Homo sapiens: one gene and its partner. The protein of the gene in region 2 purifies or fractionates together with the protein of the main gene of each other region. This does not show direct contact. Each region holds a gene or a part of one and is shown on either strand. Other genes may lie near its edges.

The links.
Region 1: the proteins of QDPR (region 2) and TANGO2 fractionate together in Homo sapiens (co-fractionation; one large-scale study listed by BioGRID). This does not show direct contact.

Annotation. Positions count from the first base shown.
Region 1 is NC_000022.11:20,037,971-20,041,786, reverse strand, and holds part of TANGO2 (transport and Golgi organization protein 2 homolog), read right to left. Parts: intron 1-3,816. UniProt on the Homo sapiens protein: May be involved in lipid homeostasis.
Region 2 is NC_000004.12:17,494,998-17,498,813, forward strand, and holds part of QDPR (dihydropteridine reductase), read right to left. Parts: intron 1-3,816. UniProt on the Homo sapiens protein: Catalyzes the conversion of quinonoid dihydrobiopterin into tetrahydrobiopterin.

The DNA of each region.
Region 1 (3,816 bases), on a different chromosome or scaffold from region 2:
TAACAGACATTCATAAAATTGGGAGTGAAAGTGGTGCTCACAGCTGGGTACGGTGGCTCATGCCTGTAATCCCAGCATTTTGCGAGGCCGAGGTGGGTGGATCATGAGGTCAGGAGTTCAAGACCAGCCTGGCCAAGATGGTGAAACCCCATCTCTATTAAAAATACAAAAATTAGGCCGGGCCCGGTGGCTCACGCCTGTAATCCCAGCACTTTGAGAGGCCAAGGTGGGAGGATCACGAGGTCAAGAGATCGAGACCATCCTGGCTAACACGGTAAAACCCCGTCTCTACTAAAAATACAAAAAATTAGCCAGGTGTGGTGGCGGGCGCCTGTAGTCCCAGCTACTCGGGAGGCTGAGGCAGGACAATGGTGTGAACCCGGGAGGCAGAGTTTGCAGTGAGCCGAGATCATGCTACTGTACTCCAGCCTGAGTGACAGAGCAAGACTCCGTCTCAAAAAAAAAAAAAAAAAATTAGCCGGGTGTGGTGGCGGGCGCCTGTAATCCCAGCTGCTCGAGAGGTTGAGGCAGAGAATTGCTTGAACCCGGGAGGCGGAGGTTGCAGGGAGCTGAGATCGTGCCACTGCACTCTAGCCTGGGCGACAGAACGAAACTCCATTTCAAACAAAAAAGTACATGGTGCTAGCACCCACCATTCATGCCCTTGGAGGCATTCACACCTGTGTGCACATGTGTGCCCCCCACTCAGTGCCTGCCCCTGAAGCTTCTTGCCAGCAGAACTGGGGAAATGCTTTTGGTCATTGCCAGGGACTGTGCCATGCCCTAGAGCCCTTGGGGTCTGCTATGGAAGCCTTACCACCTCCAGGGTGCCCCATTCAGCCTGGTCTGACACCCAGCTGGCCCCAGGGCTGCACCAGGTCTCAGGGATGTGCTGCCTGGGGTAGGGGGAGGTGGTCTCTGTCCCTGATGAGCCTCAGCCTTTGTACCTCTAACTGCCATGTTTCAACCCAGACCCAGCCCAAGTCTCCATGTCCCTTCTGGGCAGAAGTGCCCCCCAACCTCTGCAGCAGGGATGGCAGGAGAGCCCACCTTCCCTGGGCTGGACAGTGCTAGTAGAAGGCAGTGCACTTGCCCCAGACCTGGATGGGCCAGTCCTGTAGGTGCCCATTGGTTGTGTCCTGGCCAGCGGGCAGGAGAAGGGGGAACACCGCAGTCCCTGAGTGCTATGGTGGGGATGTGCCAGGGTCTGGGATGACAGCTCCTCCACCCTATGGGTGGGGTCAAGCTCCATGTGGTTCTGCTCAGCATTCTCTCTTAAATACCTTCCTCCTCTGCTTCCACGTCCCACAGCCCTGCAGGTGAACAGGGGTCGGGGGAGCCAGGGACACCTCATCCCAGTCCAGCCCCAAACCAGGCTGGGGCTGTTGGCTTCGGGTGCTGATTCTGACATAATGCTCTTACAAAGGGAAAATAAAGGGGAGAAAAGTAGGAAGAAAAGCTGACTGAGCATGGACTTTTGTCCTAAGATGTTCAGCTGTCTGTTTTTAAACAAGGAGCAATTATATATGTTTGCCTAATAACTCAGGAACATTAATTGCCAGGTTATTTTTGTTCCAGCAGTCATGTTTAGCTGAATTGCTGGTGGTTTGCCAGGGATTTCATTGAATACATAATTCAGGGACAAGCCAGCATGCTGAGCACCCAGATCAAGCCCCAAAGGGAGGAGGAAGTAGCTCTCTCAGTCATCACTGGTGGGGCTGCACATGGGTAGAAGCCTATCTGCGCCCCACGTCCAGAGAGACAGGGATGCACCCACCACGGTGAGGTCCCTGAGGATGGCAAGTCACCTCGGCTTTATTTTGTTCCAATAACTGAAACCACTAATTATCCATCACCACCTGACACCCACGCTGCTAGGCAGGGTGAGTGCGTGTACTGTCCGGGGGGTATGTGCATCATCTCGGGGGGTGAGTGTGTTCTGCCGGGGGGTGAGTGTGTGCACTGTCTGGGGGACAGTTTGGTGACAGATAGGAGGTACTCTGGCCTGAGATCCAGTGATCAAACCCTCAGTGGTGACCCCATGGAAGCTGTCCCATGGAGTAACAGCTTGTCCTGCAGCCACTCTAGGCTGAAGCCAGCAAGTGGCATCACGTGGGGCTGTAAACAGGCAGGTTTTTTTTCGTTTTTTCTTTTTTTTAAGATGGAGTCTCACTCTGTCATCCAGGCTGGAGTGCAGTGGCGCTATCTCAGTTCCCTGTAACCTCTGCCTCCCAGGCTCAAGCAATTCTCCTGCCTTAGCCTCCCTAATAGCTGGGATTACAGGTGTGCGCCACCATGCCAGGCTAATTTTTGTATTTTTAGTAGAGATGGGGTTTCACCATGTTGGCCAGGCTGGTCTCGAACTCCTGACCTCAAGTGATCCACCCACCTCAGCCTCCCAAAGTGCTGGGATTACAGGCGTGAGCCACCGCACCCGGCTGTAAACAGGCAGTTTTGAAAGAGATAGGGTGACATCATGAAGTGATTGTGTTATCTTGCTGCAGGGTCTTGGTTTTCCGTGATGGGTATCAAATTACCAAATACAGTGGCCGAGGCCGGGCATGGTGGCTCACGCATGTAATCCCAGCATTTTGGGAGGCTGAGGCAGGAGGATCACTTGGGCCCAGGAGTTCGAGACCACCCTGGACAACATAGTGAGAACTTGTCTCTACCAAAAAAAAAAAAATTAGCCGGGCATGGTGTTGTAGTCCCAGTTACTTAGGCATGCTGAAGTGGGAGGATCGCTTGAGCCGGCGAGTTTGAGGCTGCAGTAAGCTATGATCATACCACTGTACTCCAGCCTGGGCAACAGAGCAAGATCCTGTCTCTAAAATAATAATAATAATAATAAAAAAAAAAAACATAGTGGCCTAAAGCACCCTACTTTTTACTCCAGTCCACAGGTGAGGAGTCCAGCCCAGCCTAGCTGGGTACCTGTACGAGGCCTCCCAAAGTGCTGCAGAGGTGCTGTCAGGGGCTCCATAGAAGTGTCTGTGCTCCCAGCCTGCAGCGTGCCCTTCCCCTGGCTGGACACCCCACAGGCAGAGCAGAAGCAGCCACCAGAAGTGTCTCACACCCTCCCATGAAGTCAGGAAAACACAGCGCACATTTGCTCAGTCACCCAGAGGTGGCACATTTCGTCTTTGGCTTAGGGCTTCGGAAAATAGTCCAGAGAAATCCCGAGGCCAACTGGAATGGCAGGACCCGCAGGACAGGTCCTGGCAGCAACACACGGGTTCTGAGTGAAAGCAAGAGGGGCCCATGTCAACCCTCCTCCTCTCCACCCAAGGGGCTGGGTGGCACTGACCAGCACCCGCAGGCCAGCCATCAAGCTTCCTTTCCAGAGATGGGAGCACTCGGGGTGGGTTGAGTCTCTTCAGCAGCCTGCAGGAGGCAGCCCTGAAACGCATACAGAGCTGGCTGGCTCTCCTCAGCGTGCTAGTTTCCTGGGGCTGCCGTAACTAAGCACCACAGACCAGGCGGCTGCAACAACAGACACTATTGTCTCGCAGCATTGGATGCTGGAGATCCAAGATCAAGGCGTCAGCAGGGCTGGCTCCTTTTGAGGGTCTTCTCGGTATGCAGACGACTGCTTCTATCTCTGTATACACACCAGCTTCCCCTGTGCGTATCTGAGTCACCCATCACATTGATTAGGGCCTACCCACATGACCTTATTTTACCTTCATCTTTTTTTTGAGATGCAGTCTCGCTCTGTTGCCCATGCTGGAGTGCAGTGGCGCAATCTCGGCTCACTGCAAGCTCTGCCTCCCAGGTTCACGCCATTCTCTTGTCTCAGCCTCCCAAGTGGCTGGG
Region 2 (3,816 bases):
GAGGGGCTTTGCTCAGCACCTTGCCAGGGAGATGTTCTCCCAGTGACTGCGGCAGGGAGGGGGTGATGCTTCTCCCACTCTCCCAGCTCATCATTATTCATATTATCATAGATGATTCCTCTCCAGATCAAGCAGTCATCTGCGGCCCATCCGGGGCATTTCCTTCCTTATCAGCAGTGGAAGGACTGTGGCATGACGGGGATGGTGACAACTCTGGCCTTAACACCATCAAACCAACCTGCCATCACTCTGCTGCCTGTAAAGCCAGAGCCTGGAAAGGGGCTGCCAGGGTCTGCCTGCTCCCGGGCATCAAAACCCACTTACCCCACCCCATGTCATGGAGCCTCTTCTATGTGGGAATCCCTAGGCTCAGTGTTAGAAAGACGAAGAAGCACAAGGCAGCTCCCTGGCTCCCAGGAACGGCACAGCACACCAGAAAGAACCCAGAATCTGGACTTCGAGGCCAGGGGTTGGAACCCAGGTGATTCCTCACCACTGTGACTTGGGCGAGCAGCTCTTTCAGCCTCTGGTTCTTCCCTGCTAAATGGGATCCAATGCTAAGCTAAATAGGCTTTCCTGAAAACGACATGAAACGTGACACATCTCATAAACTCGAAAGGGCTCTTTCATTCCCAGAAGAATGTAAGTTCCACAGAGGCAGGGATTTTTATTGTTTTGTTCACCAATGTATCCCAAACCAAAAGGTGGCAATCAATAAATACTTTATTTGGCCAGGTGAGGTAGTTCAGGCTTGTAATCCTAGCACTTTGGGAGGCTGCGGCAAGTGGATCTCTTGAGCCCAGGAGTTTGAAACCAGCCTGGGCAACATGGTGAAACCCTGTCTCCACAAAAAATACAGAAATTAGCCAGGTGTGATGGCGAGCGCCTGTAGTCTCAGCTACCCGGTAGGCTGAGGTGGAAAGACGGCTGGAGCCCCCGGGAGGTCGAGGCTGCAGTGAGCCAAGATCACGCCACTGCACTCCAGCCTGGGTGACAGAGCCAGACCATATCTCCAAAAAAAAGGAAAATAAATAAATAAATAAATAAATAAATACTTTATTCACTGCTTTCAGAAAAGAGCAATAGGTGGGTTTCTCAAAGGAGGATAATGGGGCTTAATCAAATGGTGGCCACTCAAAAACTGTGGGAATGAAAAAACAAACTGGGGCCAGGTGCGGTGGCTCACGCCTGTAATCCCAGCACTTTGGGAGGCCAAGGCAGGTGGATCACCTGAGGTCAGAAGTTCAAGACCAGCCTGACCAACGTGGGGAAACTCCGTCTCTACTAAAAATACAAAGTTAGCTGGGGGTGGTGATGCATGCCTGTAATCCCAGCTGCTCCAGAGGCTGAGGCAGCAGAATTGCTTGAACCAGGAGTCAGACGTTGCGGTGAGCCAAGATTGCGCCATTGCACTCCAGCCTGGGCAATAAGGGCAAAACTGTCTCAAAAAAAAAAAAAAAAAAAAAAAAAAAAAAGAACAAACTGGTAGCTCTGTTCATTAAAACTATGGTAGGTGATTCTCAGTAACTCGTGAGTTTCTCAATATTCCAGACAAACTAACTTTTAAATTATTTAATCTATGATGAAGTGAAAAGAATAAGGCATGGAAAAGCCTCTATCGAGTCATCAAATTATGGTGCTTTTCTTTTTTTTTTTTTGAGACAAGCTTACTCTGTTGCCCAGGCTAGAGTGCAATGGTGCAATCTCAGCTCACTGCATCCTTCACCTCCAGGGCTCAAGCAATCCTCCCACCTCAGCCTCTTTTTTTGTTTGTTTGGAGACAGAGTCTCACTCTGTCACCCAGACTGGAGTGCAGTGGCGCAATCTCGGCTCACTGCAACCACCGCCTCCCAGGTTCAAGCGATTCTCCTGCCTCAGCCTCCTGAGTAGCTGGGATTACAGGTGACTGCCACAACAGCTGGTTATTTTTGTATTTTTTAGTAGAGATGGGGTTTGACCATGTTGGCCAGGCTGGTCTCGAACTCAGGTGAACCACCCGCTGTGGCCTCCCAAAGTGCTGGGATTACAGGCATGAGCCATCGCGCCCTGCCAAATTATGGTGCTTTTTAAAAAGTATGTGAATGTGACATGGGCACACACTAGAATGGGCACAGAATGCTTCCCAAAGGACACCTGAGAAGCCATCACTGTAGTTGGGCCTGGGAGGGAGTGCCATAGAGATCAGCGGTGTGAGTAGGAGAGAGTCTTCCTATTCATTGTGTTTCTTTTAGTGCCATGTGAATTTTTACTACATGCATTGGTTAGTTTTCCAATTTAAAAACTGATTAAATTATTTAAATAAAAACTAATACAGTGCCTTGTCTTTTCCCATAAGCTCTATTTGTCAAAGCAAGTCCTTTTCCAAGACCCTGTTTGAATCAGCTCCCTCAACAAAACCTTTTCAGAGGTGGACTCACCCCCACCAAGAGCACTCCGCTTAGACCGTAATGTAGCCCGGTCTCACACTCACACCACCCGCACCCTTGCTGCCGGAGGAGGCTCTGAATATAATTATATTATCTCTATATAATTATATTATCAGTAATTGCTATAATTACTGATTATAATTATATATTAATTACTGATCAATGTATTACTCAGACCAATCTGCTACTAACTAGCTAGGTTGTCTTAGACAAGGCACCTAAAATCACTGAACTTTTTTTCCTCCATAATCAAGGGAAAATAATAGGACCTACTTTACAGATACCTCTGGTGATGAAATAAGATCAAGCTTAGCCCAACAAGCCAAGCACCCAGAAGACAGATGCCTAAAAATATTTCTTTCTTTTTCGCCAAGTCTGTTGAGGTATAACTGAAACACAATAAACTTAAACACATTTAGGGTGTACCATTTGAGCAAATTTTGACATTGTGTATACCTGCTACCTATTGGTCTTCCTTTCCTCCCACTATTCGATGGATATTTGCTGACAGAAGCAAGGGATGTCTTTTATTAAGGTAGGTTTCCCTCTGCCCCGCAGGCATGTGGCAGGAATGGAGTCTTTCCTCTTTATGTTCCCCCACTGTGCCCAACTGTAGCTGCTCACTAAATGCTGCTATCACAGAATAATGATAGCAAGAAGGAATGATGAGTCACTGTAAACTTCTCCACCTTCTGAAAACCACTATTTCTTCTAGAGGTCATCAGGCTCCCTAAAATCCTCGGCACACACACTGTTTAAGATGTAATTGCTGTGGAGGCATCGCAAGTCCAGCGGGAGGTGGGGGGATGACAGCCCAGCCAAGGGACCAATCACAAAACTGCTTCAACAACTACCTCAAATTGCAAAAGAGGGTCAAGGTCTCAAAGAGCTATTTGGAAGCACAAGAAGAATATTTCGCCATCCTTAGCTTCTCTGTTTAATCAGGGGGCATAACAAACTCTTCAGTGATTAAAATAAACCAGGGCATAAGTGCTCATTAACCCAGCCCTGGTCCTCAAAATCCCAGAGCTCTCTCTTGACTCCATTCGAACAACACAACACAAGAGCAGGGACTCTGACAAAGGAAAGAAACAAGCAAATAGCAACCGTAATGGCTTAATTCTAAAGAATGACCTTTCCTTGGGGACACAAAAGGGGTTATTTGCAAGATATGAAAAAAAAGACATTTCACTAAGAAGGTCAACACTTCCAAATTACTGAATGATCAGTGTGGTCCCCCAAAACTGATTTCCAATCACAGCACAGATCCTTTAATGGTAAACAAAAGTGAACACCATTTTAATACTGTTTGTCCTACAGAAGACAGTCTAGAAATACAAACTTGGAAATAGGAGGGTGAGGTTTTCTCAGTATCCTTCCAAGTGAAAAA